3 linked regions of the Homo sapiens genome follow. The protein of the gene in region 1 purifies or fractionates together with the protein of each later gene. This does not show direct contact. Each region holds a gene or a part of one and is shown on either strand. Other genes may lie near its edges.

Region 1 (7,973 bases):
AGTGAGGCCTTCCTTGACCGCCCACTCTTTTTTTTTTTTTGAGACAAAGAGTCTCGCTGTGTTGCCCGGGCTGGAGTGCAGTGGCATGATCTCAGCTCACTGCAACCTCCACCTCCCAGGTTCAAGCAATTCTCATGCTTCAGCCTCCCAAGTAGCTGGGACTACAGGCACACACCACCATGCCTGGCTAATTTTTGTATTTTTTTTTTTTGTAGAGATAGGTCTCACTATGTTGCCCAGGCAGGTCTTGAACTCCTGGGCTCAACCGATCCTCCCGCCTCGGCCTCCCAAAGTGCTGGGATTATAGGTGTTAGCCACCACACCTAGCTTACTGCCCACTCTAAAATGGTCATGGTATCCTGTCCCCATCCCAGTATTCTGCATCCCAGTGGTTCTCAACCTTGAGTGTCGGTCAGAGTCACCATGGAGGCCCGTTAAAACATAGACTCTTGGGCCTTGCCTCTGATTCTGCAGGTCTGAGGGTGTGGGGCTTTGAAACAAGCTCCTGGGCCACGCCGATGTTGCAGGTCCATGAAGATTTTTTTCTCTTCACTTTTCTCTTCCTGTACCCACAGCTCCGGTCCCCATCTCTCCCCTTTCCCCTAACTTTATTTTTGTTTCTGAGCACTTATCAATTCTTTTCAGCATATTCTATAACTATTTTTTGTCCTATATATTCAATATAAGCCTATCTTCCTCCCCATGAATCCCCAGTACCCAGAATAGTGCTGGGCACAAAGTAGCTGCTCAATACTTGTTGAAAGACTTAAGAACAGCTCCGCCCAGCCCACTGGTCCTGGTTCTCGAGAGGGTTGTTGCCAACAGCCTCCCCATCCAACCTGTCTCCTGTGTCTCGTCACACTCTGTGGCTTGGCTCTCGTTGATGTAGATGCTTCCATTACGAATCAGCCACACGACCCCACTCAGCAGCTGCACAAATGGGTTCTCAGTGTCCAGCACCTCCTCCTCAGACAGGTACCTGGATCCGGGGAAGGTGGGAAGCTCACTCACCAGCAGGGGCAACTGCAGATAGTCAGGCTCTTTCTCCCTAGCCATCCCAACCTGGCTGCTAGATTCCCCCTCATGCCCCAGGAACCTCCTGGGGCCTGAGTGTAGCTGGGACAACTTAACAGCCCTAGGAATCTCCCTGTTGTCAGAGCTGAAGCTGGACAGGGTTCTGACAATACAATCCCCACAAGCCTTTGCAAACAGTCTGTTTCATTTAACAGAAATGACCATCCCCCAACAGAGCTCAAATCCATCTATGGCCCTCAATCCCCAGGCCATACCCAGCCCAACTACCACTTGATCCCTGTTACGGCCCTTCATTGGCTTCCTTGTTTCTCCACTGCTCTCTCCCACCTGGTCCCACTCAGGATCAGAACAAGCTTTATCATCAACAAATACTTTTTTTTTGAGACTCAAATAATTTTTAAGATAATTTTAAATAATTCAAATCATCAATCTTGCCAGGGCGTGGTGGCTCACACCTGTCATCCCAGCACTTTGGGAGGCTGAGGTGGGTGGATCACTTGAGGTCAGGAGTTCGAGACCGGCCAGGCCAATATGGTGAACCCACTCCCCCGTTCCCCACCCCATCCCGTCTCTACTAAAAATACAAAAATCAGCCGGGCGTGGTGGCACACGTCCGTAGTCCCAGCTACTCCAGAGGCTGAGGCAGGAGAATCGCTTGAACCCGGGAGGCAGAGGTTGCAGTGAGCCGGTATCATGCCACTGCCCTCCATCCTGGGCAACAGAGCAAGACTCTGTCTCAAAAAAAAAAAAATCATCAGTCTTGATGAGTTGATGTTTCTGACACCCCACTCCTTTTTCAGTCCCTCATACACACAAGCCCCCCTGAGCCTCTGAGCCTTTGTGCGTGGGGTTCCTTTGGACTGAAACGCTCTTCCTCCAGTTCTGACCTTGGCTCACTTAGTGATTCATCTTCAAGTTCCCACTCAAAGGTCACCTCGGAGAGGCGTGTTCCAGATCACCCTCCCTAAAATCAACACTATTTACAACGGGTTCACCCCGTTGGTTGCTTTGCTGCACACACAGCAATCAGAATGTATGTTAGCTATTTACCCGGCTTTTGTTGATTTTTCTAGTAATGGGGGAGGGCTGTTAAGGCAAAGACTGTGTTGTTCACGGCTATCTCACCGGGGCGCGGCACATTGCCTGATACAAGCAAGTGCTCAATGATACTGGATGATGAATAAACTCTGCAAGGAAGCGATTCCTATCCCCATTCTGCAGAGGAGGAAACAGGGGCTCAGCTTGGTTAAGTGACTTGAACACGGAGGCACGGCTACAACCCAAATCTCAGGCCCTCTGCCCTCGACAGCACGGGGCTCCCTGCCTCCTCACCCGGTGACCAGGGTCCCGTCGCGGCGGATCCCGAACTGCGCGTTCTGCAGCCCCCCGGAGCTGCTCACCCGCCGCTCGTCGCTCACCACGTTCCCCAGGCACTCGCCCGAGTTCATGCGGAAGAAGCCGCCGTTCTGGGCGACACGGCAGTCGGCCGCCCGCGCCGTCTCCTCCACGGTGGCGCGTCGTCTCGCCGCGCAGCCGCCGGGTCCACCGGGCTCCAGCACCGAGAAGGTGCGCAGGGGCTCAACGGCCCGCGTCAGGTGGCCGGCCACCGCGCGGTCCCTGAAGTGCGACACGAAGGTGCGCACGGCCAGACCGCCGGCGCCGGGAGTCGCGGGAGGCGGAGGCCAACTCTCGTGCTCGCGGTTGCCGGCGCGCACCCGTGTGCAGTCCCGGGGGAGGCGCGCGCGCGCGCGTGGATAGGGCAGTAGCAAGTCGTCGTCGCGGGAGGCCCTGCGGGGACGGGCGGCCGTGAGCTCAGGGGGCTGTCCTCGTGAGCTCGGAGGACAGGGGGGACCCCCCGAACCAGGCTGGCCCAGGGAGCTGCACTCACCCCGAGTCGAGGCCGCCGGACGCTTCCCAGAGGAAGCCGAATAGTGCAAGCCGGAGGAGAAGCCAGCGACCCGTGGAGGTCGCCATATTGGACCGGGGCCTCGGGTCATGTGGGCTCGCCTCACGTGACTCAAGTCCCAGGGTGGCCGCTTTCAGCTCGGACTGAATTACCTGCGCTCTTTTCGGCTGGCGGGCTGGCGGGCGGTGCTGGTGATGTTAACTTTTTATCTCCAGGTAATCTCAAACCTACAGGAAGTTGCAAGGAGAGCATAAAGAACTCTCGTAGAACTGTTATTCATGTTTAGCAGTGGTTTAGGCTTGCCTGATTTACTCAATCATTTGTACTTTGTTTTTTTTTTTTCCTGAACCAATGGCAACCAAATTGCAGATGTCATGATCCTTTACCCCATACCTCGCCATGAATCTCCTAAGAACAAGGGCATTTTCTTAACCACAGGGCAAATATCATTAGGACAACTCCCATTGACATTTCTGTGATGTCATCCACAGCTAACCTTCAATTGTCCCTCTAATGTCTTTTTTTTTCTTTTCCTTTTTGTCCGCCCCTGACCCTGTAACCCAGGAGTTGCTTTTAGTTGTCATGTCTCTTTGATCTCTTCATCTGGAAGGCTCCTCAGCCTTTTGTCTTTTACTACCTTGACATTTTTGAAGACAGCCCAGCTACATGATTTGTGTGACTCAATGCAAAATGAAAACGTGGGGACACTTACTAAAAAACCCAGAAAACTATTAAGAATTTCAAGATGGTCAGAGCAAATGGTTGCAGCAAGCCAGGGACCTTCTGAGTGAGCCCATGAAGCTGGCCCTGAGTATAGAAGCCAGTTTATTTTGTAGCATGTACTTCAAGCTTCCTTTGAGAGGATTCTTCTCTTCAGGCCTCCTGTCCCAGTGCAGTGTCCAGGGTTGGGTGGTGTCTTGGTGCCAGTGCAGTGCGTGGGCCATTCCAGGAGCCACGGCAAGTCTAATTGGCTTGATACTGTTGCGGTCTTGCCAGTGCACCTTAATATAGCAGTTTCTCCTTGTCTGAACTAGTCCCGGGGTTCTTTGTCCTACCTCCAAGAAAACTAAGGAGCGTGGACACAAGGGTGGGGTTGGAGCGAACGTTTAATAAGGGAAAGAAGAAAGCTCTCCAAAGTGGAGACGGGAGTCCGAGTGGATTGTCGGGTTACAGCTGAATGCAAAAAGCTTTTTTTTTTTTTTTTTTTAAGACAGAGTTTTGCTCTTGTCACCCAGGCTGGAGTGCAATGGTGCGATCTTGGCTCACTGCAACCTCAACAACCTCTGCCTCCTGGGTTCAAATGATTCTCCTGCCTCAGCCTCCCGAGTAGCTGGGATTACAGGCACACGTCACTGCGCCCTGCTAATTTTTGTATTTTGGGTAGAGACGAAATTTTACCATGTTGGCCAGGCTGGTTTCAAACTCCTGACCTCAGGTGATCCGCCTCCTTCCGCCTCCCAAAGTGCTGGGATTACAGGCGTGAGCCACTGTGCCTGGCCGCAAAAAACTTTTATAGGACACTGCTCTCCTCCTGGTAACTGAGTAACTTCTTACCAGTAAAACTGCCTGTGCAGCTCCCCTTATGTTATGCAGCTGTGGGTATGTCTCTAGGCAAGTGCAAATCGCTGCTTCTCTTGTTTGTGTAACTGTGGGTTTGTTTTAGATAAGGCCCCCTCCTCCCTGTGCCGGTTTCCATGGAGCCCACTGTGTATATGCCTGAAAAGGAGAGGAAACTTTTTCCCGGGAGCCTGCTAATTATGCAAAGAACAAAGGGCTTCTGCGCTGGACCCTGTCTGCTTATCTCCGTGCAGGTCCAGCCTGAGTTTTTTCCCAGGTTGCTTTATTTTTGCCAGTTTCTATGACTTTTCAGGCAGGCCACTTCTGAGGTCAGAATTTTCCCCAACGGATTTTTCTTTTCCTTCTCCCTCACTACCACAGGTATGGGGGGACACAGATAGGGGCCAGGCCAGCCCCTTTTCATCCACAGTCAGCACTTCTGGTGCTTGATCTCAGGCCCCTCTTTGAGCCACTGCTCCTTTGAGCCAGTCCACGGTGAGGGTTAGTGAACTCAGTTAGAGAGTGTCCCCCCAAACTCATGTCCTTACCAGAACCTCAGAATGTGAACTTGTTTGGAAATTGGGTCTTTGCAGATGTAATTAGTTAAGATGAGGTCATTCTGGAGTAGGGTGGGCCCTGAATCCAATCTGACTGGTGTTCTTGTAAAAGACACAAATACACACAGAGGAAAGAAGCTCATATGAACACAGGCAGAGATTGGACTGATGCAGTCATAAGTCAAAGAATGCAAAGAAGGCTAGCAGCCACCAAGAGCTAGGAGAGAGGCGTGGGAGAGACTCTTGAGCTTTGACAGAGAACATGGCCATGCTGATGCCTTGCTTTTGGAAACTAATACAATTCAGGGACCTCAAAGGGGTCCCGGGAACAGCTCTGACGCTCCTAGTTCACTTTAACCATGTACAAAATGACTGCTCCTCCTAGAGGCTTAAATGACCAATATATTGATGTGAAGGGAGTATATCTTTCTGAGCTTTGCATTGGGCTGCTAAAAATAACCAGCAGAGGAGCCCAGGCCTGACGCCTACTCCCTGCCTCCGGAAGCGCTCTTTTTTTCTGCCTCAGTTAGGAGTTGCAGGAACAGGCAGTCTTTGGCAAGTTCTGACTTTGGTTTTCTCCCTACTTTGAGGTTTGCTACTCCTTTGCCAAGTTTTTCTAAGCACATAACGGGTGCCACAGAAATTCTGCATTTGAACAGAGCAGCCCATATCCACAGTTCTAGCCAAAGCTGCTAAGAAGCCAAGGGTTTTCTTTTTTGCTCTTCAGCCTGGAATACTTTTGTCCCCTCTTAGCATCCTCATTTGAGTTCTACCATCATTTGTGTGTTCAACAGGCTGAGCACCTCGTATGTGCTCCGTTGCAGCTGATCCCTGCCTTCATGGAGCTTAGCTTTTCAAGGGGAAACAGACATGAAACAGTTATGTGATGAATGCAAGAAGCAAAGGGCAGGACTGCGAGAGAAGGATGTTGCAGGTGTGGCAGGGAAGCCTCTCCAAGCCCCTTTAGACTGTGATTGAAGGAAAGAAAAGATGCGGCTGTGTGCAGATCTGGGCCAGAGCCTGAAGTGGGAAACAGCTTGGGAGGTGCAGCAGGAAGAGCCACCTGGTGGGAGAGGAGGGCCGTGGGGGAGGGGTTGGAGGTGGTGAGCAGGGTTGAAGTGGGAGGGCCAAGGCAAGGCCAGATCGTACATGCAGGGATCCAGGGAAATGAGTATGGATTTCAGCCAAAGTGAAATAGTAAGCCATTGGAAGGTTTTTTTTTAAACTTTATTAAGATAAAATTTACATACTGTAAAATTCTCCTAAGTGTACAATGCAATGATTTGTAGTAAATGCACAGCGATATTCCAGCATCACCATTATCCAGTTTTAGGATTTTTTTTATCACCCAAAAAAGTTTTGTTATGTAATTCTATTATTATTTAGAGACAGGATCCCATTCTGTTGCCCAGACTGGAGTACAGTGGTGCAATCATCGCTCACTGCAGCCTCGACTTCTTGGGCTCAAGCAGTCCTCCCACCTCAGCCTCCTGAGTAGCTGGGACTACAGGTGTGTACTACCACACCAGGCTAGTTTATTTATTTATTTTTAGATGGAGTCTCACTCTGTTGCCTAAGCTCGAGTGTAGATTGAAATGGCCTGATCTTGGCTCACTGCAACCTCAGCCTCCCAGGTTCAAGCGATTCTCCTGCCTCAGCCTCCTGAGTAGCTGGGATTACCGGGGTGTGCCAACACGCCCGGCTAATTTTTGTATTTTTAATAGACACAGGGTTTCACCATATTGGCCAGGCTGGTCTTGAACTCCTGACCTCAAGTGATCCACCCCCGTTGGCCTCCCAAAGTGTTAGGATTATAGGCGTGAGCCACTGTGCCCGGCCCGAAAGTCATTTTTGTAAAACTCTTAGGAAATGGAAACGTCAAAGGATCAATTTCTTCTGTCCGTGCTGTGTATAGTATCTGTTGTGTAAAGGGCTGGGAGGGCATTAACAGCATCCCAGAAACTGGCGTTGAGGTTCTGAGGGGCAGGAGATTCTGTCATAGGCTGCGTGTCTGGTAGGTGGCCCCCACGTCCAGTTGGGTACATTAGGGGTGCCCCTCATCCCATGTGGACTTGCAGGGTGGTGTGGGGGCTGCCAGCTGGGCAGACCAGACTCAAGCACGCTCACAGCCCAAGGTCCCTTCCACCAGCTAAGACCTGGACAAAACATCTCCAGGTGCCTCTTTTTTCTTTTTCTTCATTTTTTCTATTTAATTCAGCAAATATTTTTTAAACATTTCTATGTTCCAGGCTGTATAGTAGGAGCCAGGCACCTGAAGAGGAGCAAGACATCGTCTGTGCCCTAAAGTCATTCACAATCTGAAAATAGAGTTGACAAGCACACAAACGAAGCCAGAGTGAGCTGCCACAGAGCAGTGTAGGGAATGAGATGGGCAAGTAGGTGTGAGGAGGGGAGGAGGCTTCACAGAACAAGGGACAACCTTGGGGAATCTTTTTTTTTTTTTGAGACGGAGTCTCGCTCTGCCGCCCAGGTTGGAGTGCAGTGGCGCCATCTCAGCTCACTGCAAGCTCCGCCTCCCAGGTTCATGCCATTCTCCTGCCTCAGTCTGCCAAGTAGCTGGGACTACAGGTGTGTGCCACTACGCCCGGCTAATTTTTGTATTTTAGTAGAGAAGGGGTTTCACCATGTTGGTTGGCCAGGATGGTCTCAATCTCTTGACCTCGTGATCTGCCTGCCTCGGCCTCCCAAAGTGCTGGGATTACAGGTGTGAGCCACTGCCCCCAGCCAATCACGGGGAATCTTAAAGGACAAATCCAATTTAACCAGATTGGGGGTGGGGGCAGATTCGCAATTGCAAAAATGTGGAACCAGCCCAAATGCCAATCAATGAGTGGATAAACATCATATATATATGATGGAATACTACTCAGCCATAAAAAGAAATGAATGAATGGCAT
Region 2 (7,038 bases), on another chromosome or scaffold:
TTCAGAAAACGATAGAAAAACTTTTAAAAATGTGTCTTCATTTTTACCATTTTGTAAATAACTTTTCCTTAAAAAACAGAAAGAACTTGTGAAAAATTAGCCAAGATTTTTATGAGCAAAGATTGTTTTTCCAAAAACACAAAATTTCATCCCCAAAGAAAAAAATACTAAGCAAATATAAGCAAAGAGGCAAACCAAAAAGATTCTCTCCTCACATTAAAGCACATAAATCTTTAAAATTGAAAGACACAGAGATCGTTTTTACTCTATAATAGCACTGACACATAGTTCATAATGACTGAAGGAAATCATCAGACAGTATCAAATTGAGGCTGCTTACAAAAATCAAGGTTGTCAAACAGGCATTCTAATAGGACTTATTTCACAAAATAAAAAGTTTAGCCAATTCTTCCAAACATAGTCATAAGATATACAAATACTAAATTCGGCCAGAATTTTTATCACAAAATTACTTGATAATCTTTGTGTAAAATTTTATTAACATTAACTTAAAAAGATAATCAGATTCTCATTGTATGTTCAGTCCTATACAAAGAACCACAGGTTCCCTGTTTGTACACAAAAATCTATAAATTCAAAAATCCTTTAAGACCAAATTCTACAGAAAAACCCTCAAAATGTTTAAAATCCTGGTAATAATAATCGTAAGGTATACCTTTAACTGTTAACCATGAATTGCATCCTGGCTACACAGACAAAATGGACCTAGCTGCCTTTTATAAAACGTTCAGTAATGCTGTCCACTAGGAGGTTAAATGCTGGGGTGGCCAAAGCCATCATTCAGTCCTGAAATCTACCCTAAAGTCTAAGAAGAGTTCCCCAAGAGGTAATAACAGGAGGTTAAAAAAAAAAAAAAACAGTCACCAGGCTTGAATACATACTTGAGCACACAACTGGTGTTCTTCTTTTTCTATATTATTTTTCAACTTTGAAAAAAAATTAATCAAAAAATTGATAAACTATTAATCATAAAAAATACTTATTTTAGATCCTGCAACTAACAGAAAGTAAAATTTTAAAAGGATATGAGGTCCAGCAATGAACTGTGTGTCCTGTCATTCATACACAGCTGGGCTACCATCTCGGCCCTGAGAATCTCATCATCAGACATTCCTAAAATTATTAAAAACGGAATTAACAAATCTGAGTATACATAAATTATAAAGAAAAAAACTTACCACACTTTTTACTAAGCTGTTTTACCAAATATAAGATGCTTCAAATTAAAGAGTAAAGAAGCTATGCTCCAAACATAACTGCAGTTTAACTGCTGTTTGCAGTTCCCTTAAGCAAAGGATATTCTAAAAGGTATACCTACAGTACAACATATCAAGAGTTTGAAACATTGTTTACATTTATCTACATCCTTTCCTTTTTTCCCTAAGCCAGTTACTACCACAGGGAGGGGGAGAAAGGGAGGAAAACAGTTAATGCATAAGTATTAGTATCAGTGAGTTTTACCTAAATGTAAACGAAGACTCAAAAGAATCACAAGAAATGTAAGAGCGCCTTCTAACATCGACCTCTCATGCTCTGCATCAAGTACTGTATTTTGATGTTGTGATGCCATTGTCAACAAATCCACTACCTTAAATCTACAAGAAGAAATATTTGAAACATATTTTTATAAATTAAAACAAAATTAACTGGACACTTCCTAATACCTGTCTTAATAAAATTATGCCTACCTTTCAAAGACGGATGAAATAAAATAATCTGGGTCAAGTCTAGAAGCACAAACCTTTAAAAGAAAACAAAATGCTTTATTTCTCAATATTCAGTTTTCCTTCTTCTATTAATCATGTTTTTCTATACTTTTTTTTGTTTTTTGTTTTTTGTTTTTTGTTTTTGAGACAGAGTCTCACTCTCACCCAAGCTGGTGCAACCTCAGCTCACTGCAACCTCCACCTCTGCCTCCCAGGCTCAAGCAATTCTCATCCCCCAGTCTCCCGAGTAGCTGGGATTTACAGGTGTGTGCCACCACACCTGCCTAATTTTTGTATTTTTAGTAGAGACAGGGTTTCGACGTGTTGGCCAGGCTGGTCTCAAACTCCTGGCCTCAAGTGATCTGCCTGCCTTGGCCTCCCAGAGTGCTGGGATAACAGGCATGAGCCACCACGCCTGGCTATGATTTTTATTTTCTGTATATTATGATGTTTTGACATCTTGAGGGGCATTACAGACCTGAAGACAGATAGTCCCTCCCAGAGCCAGTTAATTCCTGAACATACTAAACAACTTACTTGGGAAAATGCCTGTCATGCAAGCCAACCACTGTCTTTATCTAACTCTCACACATCAACCCAGTATTTCCCCTCCCCTAAATCAACCCAGGGCCAGGTACCGCAGAGCCAGATACAGCCCCTATGCCTCAAAGCCTGCTGGAATTATTCAAATTAGCCAATCCTGCCTTGCCTTTCCTTGCCTTTCCTGCAGAAACCCCAATAAAGGCTCTGGCCTAGGCTCTCCCCTCACTCCTTTCTGCCTCTTGACCAAAATCTGGTGCTTTCCTTGTAGCCTTGTGTTGGGTGGTATGCCTCTTCTCCTGGGAAATGTAAGTAAAAAATTATTCTTTCAATGGCATTGGCCTCTCCATGTCATCACGCAGTCACCTCTATAAATTAAAATCCCTTGGGTACAAATGAGACACTTCTAAAGTATATCTGCATTATCTAGCTGGCTTACCTGTAACAGGTAAATGTCAGGATCAATCATGGAATTACAGAAATGAGACTGGACATACGTCATGGCTTGTCCTTTGATTTGCAGACCATTTCTTACCCACATATTGCTGTGGATTTCTGCAAGACTTGCCTAATAAAAGTAAATTGGACAAAGAATAAATTATCTAAATGCAATCTTTACAAAATATTATAAATAACCATTTCAAAATATTTAATGATGTGATCATAGTATAAGCCCGATATTCTGTCCAATGTTAAAGATAATCAGTTGAAATATACATTTTTACATTTTTTTTAACAATAATTATGTTTTTACATAGCCACTTTTTTAGAGTTTAAACAAATGAGTTGGTTTTCCATGTTGGCCTCTGGATACATTTATGATGATTTTCACTGACATCTTTCATAAGAAATCAATGCTTATGTTTCACTCTATTTCTCCCTCAAGAAAACCCTAAGTAACAACAACAACAATCCTAATATACATGTTTAAAGAAAGACACTAGAATAAGCATAAAATAAAACCAACTGTTCAAAGTCAATGAATACATTCTACATCTTTAATTCACCCTAACTCAATCTTAAATCTATACTGCTAATTTTCCAAATATTGGAGGTTAGAATAAATGTTCTCACTACATCAGTATTTAATTCTTCATGTATTTATGTCCAGTGTCAACTAAAACTAGGCAGTCATCATTTTTTTTGTTTTTTTTGAAACAGAATCTCACTCTGTCGCCAGACTGGAGTGCAGTGGCGCGATCTTGGCCCACTGCAACCTCTGTCTCCCAGGTTCAAGCAATTCTTCTTGCCTCAGCCTCCCGAGTAGCTGGGACTACAGGTGCACGCCACCATGCCCAGCTAATTTTTGTATATTCAGTAGAGACAAGGTTTCACCATGTTGGCCAGGATGGTCTCGATTTCTTGACCTCGTGATCTGCCCGCCTTGGCCTCCCAAAGTGCTGGAATTACAGGCGTGAGCCACCACACCTGGCTTCAAGCAGTCATAATTTTATGTTTCCTAACACCCAGAGTTCAAGTTCAATATTATAATAATTAACAAATCTAAAATTGCCAGGAAAAACAAATGGAAGTGCAAGTCCCTCTAATGTATATAAAAAGCTGGCCTGTCAAATTACATTGCTGGTATTAAAAGAAATCACAGTGCTTATATAAGCTAATTCTTCTCTCCTCTTTCTCCTCTCACTATACAGATAGGGAAACTGAGAATCAAGGAGGTGAATTACCTTAAACCTTGCGGAAAATAAAACAGTGGTAGCACCAAGGCTAGAATCTTTTGGATCTCCTGACTCCCAAAACAGTGCTATATAGTATGTTAAATACCACCCCATAAGCAAATATCATGAAAAGAATTCCTGGAAAAAGTAAAACTAAAAAGTAAATCTCATAAAATGAAAAATACCTAAACATAATCTAGCAAAAATACAATAACAACTTTTTAAAAAAAGTTTTCAAACATCTCAGCTATAATAACAATGAAAGGCATATAAATAAAGGAAGAATCACTTAAACAAGGAATCCACTTCAAAACTTTTTAAATGCCTGAATACATACTTGAATTTGGAGTGGGTGAATCATTAGTTTCATTAACATTTCCTGATCTGGTAAAACAGAATCCAAATCTAGTTCTTGACATTTCACAGCCTAAAAATTACAATAAAAAAGTTACTAATTCAATTCTTATTTCTGAAAATTAAAAAAAAAAGAACAGAATTGTTTAATGACAGTCTTACCTTACTCAAAAACATAGCATAGTAACGATGTAGTGGCAGATGAAAAGTGACTTGGTTAGGTGCTGGCTGGAATAAACAAACAAAATGCACAAGTCAAAGACTATTTTATAGAAATTTTAAGATGGTTGTAAAATGTTTAAACCATACTCTCACCTGGATTTATTCCTATACTTTTAGTTCAAAACTTAACATTTTAGAAGATGCAGATTCCAAAATCACTATAGATAAAATTTTTCCATTTTAAACACTTAAGTATAAGTTTCTTGAAGGCAGAAATTGTATTCTACTCAACTTTGAATCCTCTGAAGCATCCAGTACAGATTAATATTTCCTAAATTCAATTCAGCTAAAGCAAATAATTATTATTAAAACAAGGGATGGAATGGATTTCCAGCTACAGTAGACCATTTGGGACTCTTCAAACGCATGTATACCAAACATCATGACAGTAATAACAGTCACATATAACATTCATTGAACACTTCCTATGTGCCAGTCACCATGCTAAGCACTTTATTCACATTACCACATTTAATCCTCAGAAGAATGCTATGGGGTAGGAGCTACTAATATTCTCATTCTACAAGTAGCAAAATTCAAACTTAGAAAACTTAACTAACTTCCTAAAGTTCAAAAGTAGTGAACTGGGGAGCTAATCTGGACTCCACTGTCATATTCAAAACTGTAAGAAGACTCTGACCACATCCCTAAACAGAGGTATAAATGCAGGGCATCGTTAGATTCCTTCACCAGTTAGATAAGATGCTTCCAAACAGTACCAAACGCACCAGCCTCCATAACAAAACTTCATAAAAAATATGTGAATGACCTTAGGCATTCCTGTAAATATTACAAAAACTGTATTTTAAATCTGTGAATCCCATGGATCACAAAATCACTACAGGGCAAAAATACACCACAGCTGTCCTTCTTAAACAAATGAGTTAAGAACTGAAAAGGTATTGTTTGTTTTTAATGCTTTTTAAGTTCTTATTAAATATTCTCTTGTTAAAAATGTTTATCCCGGACATTCAGATAATTATGCTAATGTATATAATTTACATTATAGAGGTTATAAGGAGTCTAAATATGTCACCATCCCTGAAATAATTATTTTTTTCAAAACCAGTAAGATAATAATATCCTCTTCAATATGTAAAGGCTATAAAAATTTGTTCTAATAAATAAAAGTTTGCCCTCCATAAAAAGAAAGGAAAGTCTAACAATGTTCTGTAACATGAATAAACCTTCGGGATATTATGCTAAGTAAAATAAGCCAGTCACAAAAAGACAGTAACTATATGATTCCACCTATATGAGGTTCTTAGAGCAGCCAAATTCGTAGAGATACAAAGTAGAATGGTGGTTGCCAGAAGCTGGGGGAAGAGGAAATGGGGAGTAGCTATTTAATGAGTATAGTTTCAATTTTATGAGATAAAAAAGTTATGGAGATTGGCTGCACGACAATACAAATACACATAACACTACTGAACTATACACTTAAAAATGATTAAGATAGTGAATTTTATGTTTTCTGTGTATTTTACCACAATTAAAAATAAAATTTTAAAAAGTTTGCCCTCCATTACCATAATCGCCTTAGTAACATATTCTACACTAACTAGCTAAGTCAGAATCTCCCTCAATTTCCTTTGAGGCACTAAGCACAGTGGATAAGTGCAGACTCTTTTTTTTTTTTTTTTTTTAAATAGACAGGGTCTCACTCTGTGGCCCAGGGTGGAGTATGGTGGCACGATCACAGTTCGCTGCAACCTCCACCTCCCGGGCTCAAGTCATCCTCCCTCCTCGGCCCCCTGAGCAGCTGGGACTACAGACACACACCACCATGCCTGGCTAATTTCTGTTTTTGGTAGAGACAGGGTTTTTGCCATGTTGCCCAGACTGCTCTCGAACTCCTGGGCTCATGCAATCTGCCCGCCTCAGCCTCCCAAAGGATTGGAATTATAGACGTGAACCACCAGGCCCAGCCTAGGTGCAGACCCTTTTTTTGAGTCTCGCACTGTCCCCCAGACTGGAGTACGGTGGCGCGATCTCAGCTCACTGCAACCTCTGCCTCCCGGGTTCAAGCAATTCTCCTGCCTCAGCCTCCTGAGTAGCTGGGACTACAGGCATGTATTACCACACCGGCTAATTTTTGTATTTTTAGTAGAGACAGGGTTTCACCATGTTGCCCAGGCTGGTCTCAAACACCTGACCTCAAGTGATCCACCTGCCTCGGCCTCCCAAAGTGCTGGGACCAAAGGCGTGAACCACTGTGCCTGCTTCCTAAGTGCAGAATCCTGGTTCTACCACCCAGCTGTAAAACTATGGGCAAGTTACCTCTCTGTGCCTAAGTTGTCTGATCCTTAAAGTAGGAATAATAAAGAGTTTAGTAGCTGCGAGAAATAAGTAAAACAGCACAGTACCCAGTACATATTGCTATTAACTAGTAAGCCATGGACCCTATTTTATCTTTCAGGGCTTTAGCATATCCTATGTTCACATTCTCCATAACGTTAAAGTCCATATTCCTTCCTTGTCTAATGTCACAGACTGGCTACTTGATAAGCACTTCTTCT
Region 3 (6,038 bases), on another chromosome or scaffold:
ATTGGAAGTATACACAGAAATATTTACAGTGGGAACTACAAGTGGATTCATGTTTGATTTTCAACATAAAATGGAATAACCAAAAACAAGACTCATTGCAAGTACCGGTTTACCAGCAACAATTTGAGATTCCTTGAAATACAGCTGCTTTGCTGGGTATCTGTGGGAATGACGGACTTCAGGGTGCTTGCTGTATGGTGAACTGAACTTGAGTGAATCTTAGCAGCCTCAGTAGAACAATAATTTTAAGAGTGTATTAAAGAAGAGCTTCAAACAATATAGTCCAAACTGAACCTCTAGGGAGCCATAGCAGCCTGACATGTAGTAATCAAAAAATCTTTGAGCAAAATCTTCTGTAGAATATTAGTTACATAAAGCCAACATGCAAATTGTTCTCAGTCCTGAAAATAGTGGTTACAGCCACAACCTAAAGACAAGTTCTATTTTTATATATTGTGAATAGTATGGCTTATGCCTAAACCGTAGACACACAGGTCTTGTTCTCACGCAAAGGGTGTATATGCTCATATGTGCTTACAACAAGGAGCAAGGATGGGTCACTGGTGGGAGGAGGGGTTGGGTGGTATATATAGAATACAGGAGAAAACCTCCATGATTTCTGACTTTACTAGCACTCCTGCTAAAGTAGGATAGCAACACTCACCTTTTAGAGACCTACACATTACAAAACCGAGCTTACAGAATGCACACAATAAATTTAAAAAAAATTTTTTAAAGCCAACAGGCAAAAATATGTCTATCAAATAACTCACGATGTTAGGAACAATCAACAGTTGTAAAAAAAATTTTTTTTCTCTACACTAAACAAGTGAATGTTTGCTTTTTTTTTTCCTTTTAAATAAATTATAGTTACTGATTGTGTTCATATTATACATAGTGGGATCAGAGTTGGAGGTTTTTTATAAATTCTATTGTTGTGGTACATTTTAATTTACTAAACTGAGTATACATATTCTTGGTAACTTTCTACCACCTCTAAAAATGAGTCTTTGACAGAATATATTGTGCAAAAAAAGATGATAGGAATTTTCTGTATAAATAGGGTGTTTTATCTCCATATACTGTTCTTTAACATAAGAGACCTTTTTTATTTTGCTCATAGTATGTTTGAATGTTTAAACATTTAAGTATTAAATCATGAACTCTATCTTATTCTTTAACTTTCTAGAGTCTTAAAAGCTGATGATGCCTTTAGGACTGAAAATTTTAAGGCTTTAATAAATGCTGTCAGACATGTTCAACAGCTACTATAAACCTTCTCTTAAACAGTTAAAACCACAGTTCTGACCCAGACCCACACAATATAATTAAGGCAGTTATTGGAGTAAGCTAGATTTGAAGTTAACGTAATTTCAGCCTATCATATTTTATACCCACACTTTTGAGGGACATTTGAATCTAGTGAGCTCTGAAAATATACAAGATATAGAAGTGCATATTGAGAGATAAATTTGAGTATATCTGTTAATGTTTATGTCTTAAGATTACTTTCCTTAAGTCTTTTAGTTCTTTTAATTCACCTTTCTTCCAGTAACCTCTCTGTTTGGCTCTTCTTTCCCAGATATCCCCCTTTGCTAGCCATTCCTTTAAAGGAGCAGTTAACCTGTGTGTAACCCAGATGCCTAATAGTTTAGGATGGGTGAAACTAATGACTCCCGGGGAACACTGGTGGAGTCCTGAGTCCCACATCCTCCTTACAAGCGGCTGTAAGAGGAGCATGCAGTAGGAACATATATGAACACCAGAGGATGTTATAGTGGCGTTGTCCAAACTTGAGTGGAGCAATTGACAGTTCCACATCTAGGTTTGTCAACAACAAATAACAGTTGGCTATACATATCTACTCTGAGTAGTTTAAGAACATTTTCTTTGGAGAGTGATTGTTCAGTTGTTACATAATCTCTAACTCACTGATTCTAAAAATTTTCAGATTAAATTAATGGGCATACCTGGAAGAAAAATAGCTATAGGTTGGTTGTCAAATAGATGGTGATTAGAATACTATTGGCGATTGATTTTTTTACTTGATATGAGTAAAGACCAGAATACAGAATAGTACATATAATAGGATATTCCATGGCAGATGTGTTTTATATGGTACTTTCAACTATTTGCCCCTGAGCTAGAGTATGAGTTAGATGTTTCTAAAAAGATCAAGTCTAACATGAATATATATATATATATATGTGTGTATACAGATCTTTAATAATATTTACTAAATGTTTTTATTTTTATTTTTTTTTTTAGACAGAGTCTCGCTCTGTCACCCGGGCTGGAGTGCAGTGGCACCATCCCGCTCACTGCAACCTCTGCCTCCCTAGTTCAAGCAATATTCATGTATCAGCCTCCCGAGTAGCTGGGATTACAAGTGTGCACTAACATGCCCGGCTAATTTTGGTATTTTTAGTAGAGATGGGGTTCCACCATGTTGGCTAGGCTGGTCTTGAACACCTAACCTCAAGTGATCCGACTGCCTCAGCCTCCCAAAGTGCTGGGATTACCGGTGTGAATGACTGTGCCCGGCACTAAATGCTTTTATGAATCCAGAAACTGTGCCCCCAGAGAGCTTATGATTTGATGAAGATAGGTCAGAGTATGGGCAGTATAAAGGAGTATAGTATAAAAAAATAAAAAGGAGCATTGGCAATTCAAGGTGGGATGAAATTGTGGAGGATTTTTTCTTTTCTTTTTTTTTTTTTTTTTTTTTTTTTTGAGATGGAGTCTTGCTCTGTCGCCCAGGCTGGAGTGCAATGGCGCAGTCTCGGCTCACTGCAAGCTCCGCCCCCCGGGTTCACACCATTCTCCTGCCTCAGCCTCCTGAATAGCTGGGACTACAGGCGCCTGCCACCACGCCCAGCTAATATTTTGTATTTTTAGTAGAGGCAGGGTTTCACTGTGTTAGGATGGTTTCGATCTCCTGACCTCGTGATCCACCTGCCTCAGCCTCCCAAAGTGCTGGGATTACAGGCGTGAGCCACCGTGCCCAGCCTAATTGTGGAGGATTTTTAAAGCTAATAGATTAGACTTAATGTAAGAACCAAGTACTTGCTGTACATTTCAGACCAGGCAGATAACATAAAGAGAGTGGGATTTTAAAACATTAATCTGATCAGAGCCAGGCACGGTAGCTCACACCTACAATCTCAGCAACTCAGGAGACTGAGGCAGGCGTTCAAGACCAGCCTGGGCAACATAGTGAGACCCTGCCTCTAAAAAATTTTTTTAAATTAGCCAGGCATGGTAGTTGGAGGCTGAGACAACAGGGTCATTTGAACCCAGGAGTTCAAGGCTTCAGTGAGCTATGATTGCACCACTGCATTCCAGCCTGGGTGACAGAGTGAGACCCTGTGTCTAAAATAATACACTTGAAAATAAAAATATGGTCAGAGCAATTGGAATTGTACAACAGTAGTCAATTGCATTAAGATAAGTGTAAAGTTCAAACTGTAGTAGTAAGTGCAGTATTAGTGAGGAAGGGGTTTCTTTCCAAGATTTCAAACAAATACATAGAATTTTGTGGGAATTCAGACGTAAGGGATGAACGACTGAAGCGTCAGAGTCTTAAGAGTTTGAGCATGGTTGAATAGAGTGACCTGTGAAAGACCAAGGCTGTGGATGTCAGTTTTCATGGCAATGTTTTGAGGAGTGTAGATAAAAGTATGAGAGGGGATGAGCTGGAAGCAGCCAGTAGGCTTAGATGCCTTAAATAGTATACATTTAATGTGCTAAAGGGCGTTGATGAAGGAACAGGGAGCATGCTATTTAGAGAAGTGAGCATGGATATCACCTTTTAAACCATTAGTTAGCAGTGGCTCAGGTATTTTCTCGATTTAGAGACTATAGCATACCATGTCACACTAGGAAAGCGTATATGAAAATCCAGACTTATAAAAATTAAAGAGTAGTTGCATTTAAAAGGATTCTTCATTTTCAGCAGGATTAGTCATAAAACTCATTTTAAAGAGTTGAACTTCTTAATATAAAAGAAGATGATTTACCAAAATTTGGTTAGAATGCAGTCCTTTAGAATTGCACTTTTTGGGGACATCTGCATTCAAATAATACCTGTCTTCTAGGGTAAAAGATGCCATGGGAAAAATTGCCAAAAAAAATGTTAGCAGTAAGAACCTTTTCAACAGGGAAAAGTTAGTTTTTAAATAACCACTTGTACATACTACCCTGTGACAGTAATATTCTTCACTAAGTTTGTTTTCTATACTATTTCATTTTTTCTGACAGTTCCTTTCTCCCCATCCCTACTCCTTATAGGTATATTTGGCCCGAAAGGAAGGATCATCTTTTGCTTATATTTCCTGGAAGTTTGAGTGTGGGTCAGTTGGCCTAAAAGTAGATAGCATTTCTATTAGAACAAGTAGTCAAACTTTTCAGACTGGAACAGTAGAATGGAAATTGCGATCTGATACAGCACAAGTAGAACTGACAGGCGGTAAGCATTTGCCTGGAGAATTAATCACGAAATATATATTTACCACTCTGAAGACTAATTGTACTTATTTGAGATGTAGCTCTTTTTCGTACCTAAGAGTTATTAATACTATTTCAGTAAAAAAAAAAAAATTTAATAAACCCTGTGTGATCCCATTGTAACAGAAAGGCTGATGTTTTCTGTTGTGAAATACAAATGCAAGGAAAAAATCATTTCTTTGTTTCAAAGGATGCATTTCTTCCATAAAGAATAATTTGTATTTATTTTTAAGGGTTTATTTTAACTTATACATCAGCCTATATAAAATACATTTCAAAATGATCTGTGCTCTTTAAATTACCAAAAGCAAAATGTTAATTTTTTTTTTCCCTCTAACAGATAACAGTCTTCACTCCTATGCTGATTTTTCTGGTGCCACTGAAGTTATTTTGGAAGCAGAATTAAGCAGAGGAGATGGTGATGTCGCTTGGCAACACACCCAGCTGTTTAGACAAAGCTTAAATGACCATGAAGAAAATTGTTTGGAGATAATTATAAAATTCAGTGACCTTTGAGAACCTGAACATTATAGAAAAGCTGGCAATAATCAAGGACTTACTGAAGTAGTCTGTTGGTTCAGTGCATGCTTAGTTGGCAGTTACCACCCTGTGCTAGCATATTTCTTTTGCTAGCTATCCATCATGTAACCCTCATGAAAATTATCTTTATACGTGGACTATAATAAAATATTGAATTAAAACCTTTCTTCCATATGTGACTATAATTTGGAGTAAAGTCTTGTTGACTCAATATGGGATTTTAATCTAAAACTGTAAGTATGGTTTTAAAAGTTAAATAATGATATTCATGATTAAATGCTATTCATGATTATGATAAAATCTTGGGCTTATGATAGTAATTTGACATTTTCTGATCAGCCATTCATTTCTTCAGAAGTGGTTAAATTAGAGTCTCCTAATATTTTTAATTAATGTGAAAGTACAGTAGCTCATAAATTATATAATGCATGAAAATTTATATGATTATAAATATTCAGGCATTTAAGAAATAAAATGAAGTATTTTGCCTTACATCTTTTTAGTGGTTATTTTGGCTAAATAAAAATCTTTTTTCTAAACATTGAAAAATACTTGAATAGATATGAGTTATGAAAACATTTAACATTGACAACATAAACTAGGATACATTTTAAATTCCATAATACGTGGACATTTTGAAAATGCCTTACCTTTGAGTTATATTTTTATCTACCTCATTGAATAAAATATTCTTGATTTTGAAACTATGTAACTATATTATACAGTATCTATATGTTGTATCAAGAGGTTTTGTGTATATTCTGTATAACCTCTCAAATTTAGTGAACATTTATTAAGCATTTATGTACAAAGCATTGTGATAGCACTGTGGAGGAAGCAGTGGTGAAAAAGACATAGCCCCAAGCCTCCAGATTCCTTTGTGATATTCTGCAAAGTGAGTTCTCAACTCTTTATACAAGAAAAAGACACACTCAAGAGTCTCACCCTGTGCCACTCAATAGAACGTGACATGTATTATAAAATATATAATA

The links.
Region 2: the proteins of NAGPA (region 1) and UBR3 purify together in Homo sapiens (affinity purification with mass spectrometry; 2 studies listed by BioGRID and IntAct, with this or other methods). This does not show direct contact.
Region 3: the proteins of NAGPA (region 1) and NGLY1 purify together in Homo sapiens (affinity purification with mass spectrometry; 2 studies listed by BioGRID and IntAct, with this or other methods). This does not show direct contact.

The regions. Positions count from the first base shown.
Region 1 is NC_000016.10:5,030,906-5,038,878, forward strand, and holds the start of NAGPA (N-acetylglucosamine-1-phosphodiester alpha-N-acetylglucosaminidase precursor), read right to left. Parts: upstream 3,031-7,973; 5' UTR 3,010-3,030; coding exon 2,924-3,009; exon of another isoform or gene 2,824-2,923; coding exon 2,368-2,823; intron 980-2,367; coding exon 840-979; intron 1-839. UniProt on the Homo sapiens protein: Catalyzes the second step in the formation of the mannose 6-phosphate targeting signal on lysosomal enzyme oligosaccharides by removing GlcNAc residues from GlcNAc-alpha-P-mannose moieties, which are formed in the first step.
Region 2 is NC_000002.12:169,921,416-169,928,453, reverse strand, and holds part of UBR3 (E3 ubiquitin-protein ligase UBR3), read right to left. Parts: intron 4,526-7,038; coding exon 4,460-4,525; intron 4,371-4,459; coding exon 4,281-4,370; intron 2,836-4,280; coding exon 2,707-2,835; intron 1,763-2,706; coding exon 1,710-1,762; intron 1,617-1,709; coding exon 1,483-1,616; intron 1,135-1,482; coding exon 1,049-1,134; intron 1-1,048. UniProt on the Homo sapiens protein: E3 ubiquitin-protein ligase which is a component of the N-end rule pathway. Does not bind to proteins bearing specific N-terminal residues that are destabilizing according to the N-end rule, leading to their ubiquitination and subsequent degradation.
Region 3 is NC_000003.12:25,718,444-25,724,481, reverse strand, and holds the end of NGLY1 (peptide-N(4)-(N-acetyl-beta-glucosaminyl)asparagine amidase), read left to right. Parts: intron 1-1,582; coding exon of another isoform or gene 1,583-1,747; exon of another isoform or gene 1,748-1,805; intron 1,806-4,290; coding exon 4,291-4,468; intron 4,469-4,846; coding exon 4,847-5,022; 3' UTR 5,023-5,538; downstream 5,539-6,038. UniProt on the Homo sapiens protein: Specifically deglycosylates the denatured form of N-linked glycoproteins in the cytoplasm and assists their proteasome-mediated degradation. Cleaves the beta-aspartyl-glucosamine (GlcNAc) of the glycan and the amide side chain of Asn, converting Asn to Asp.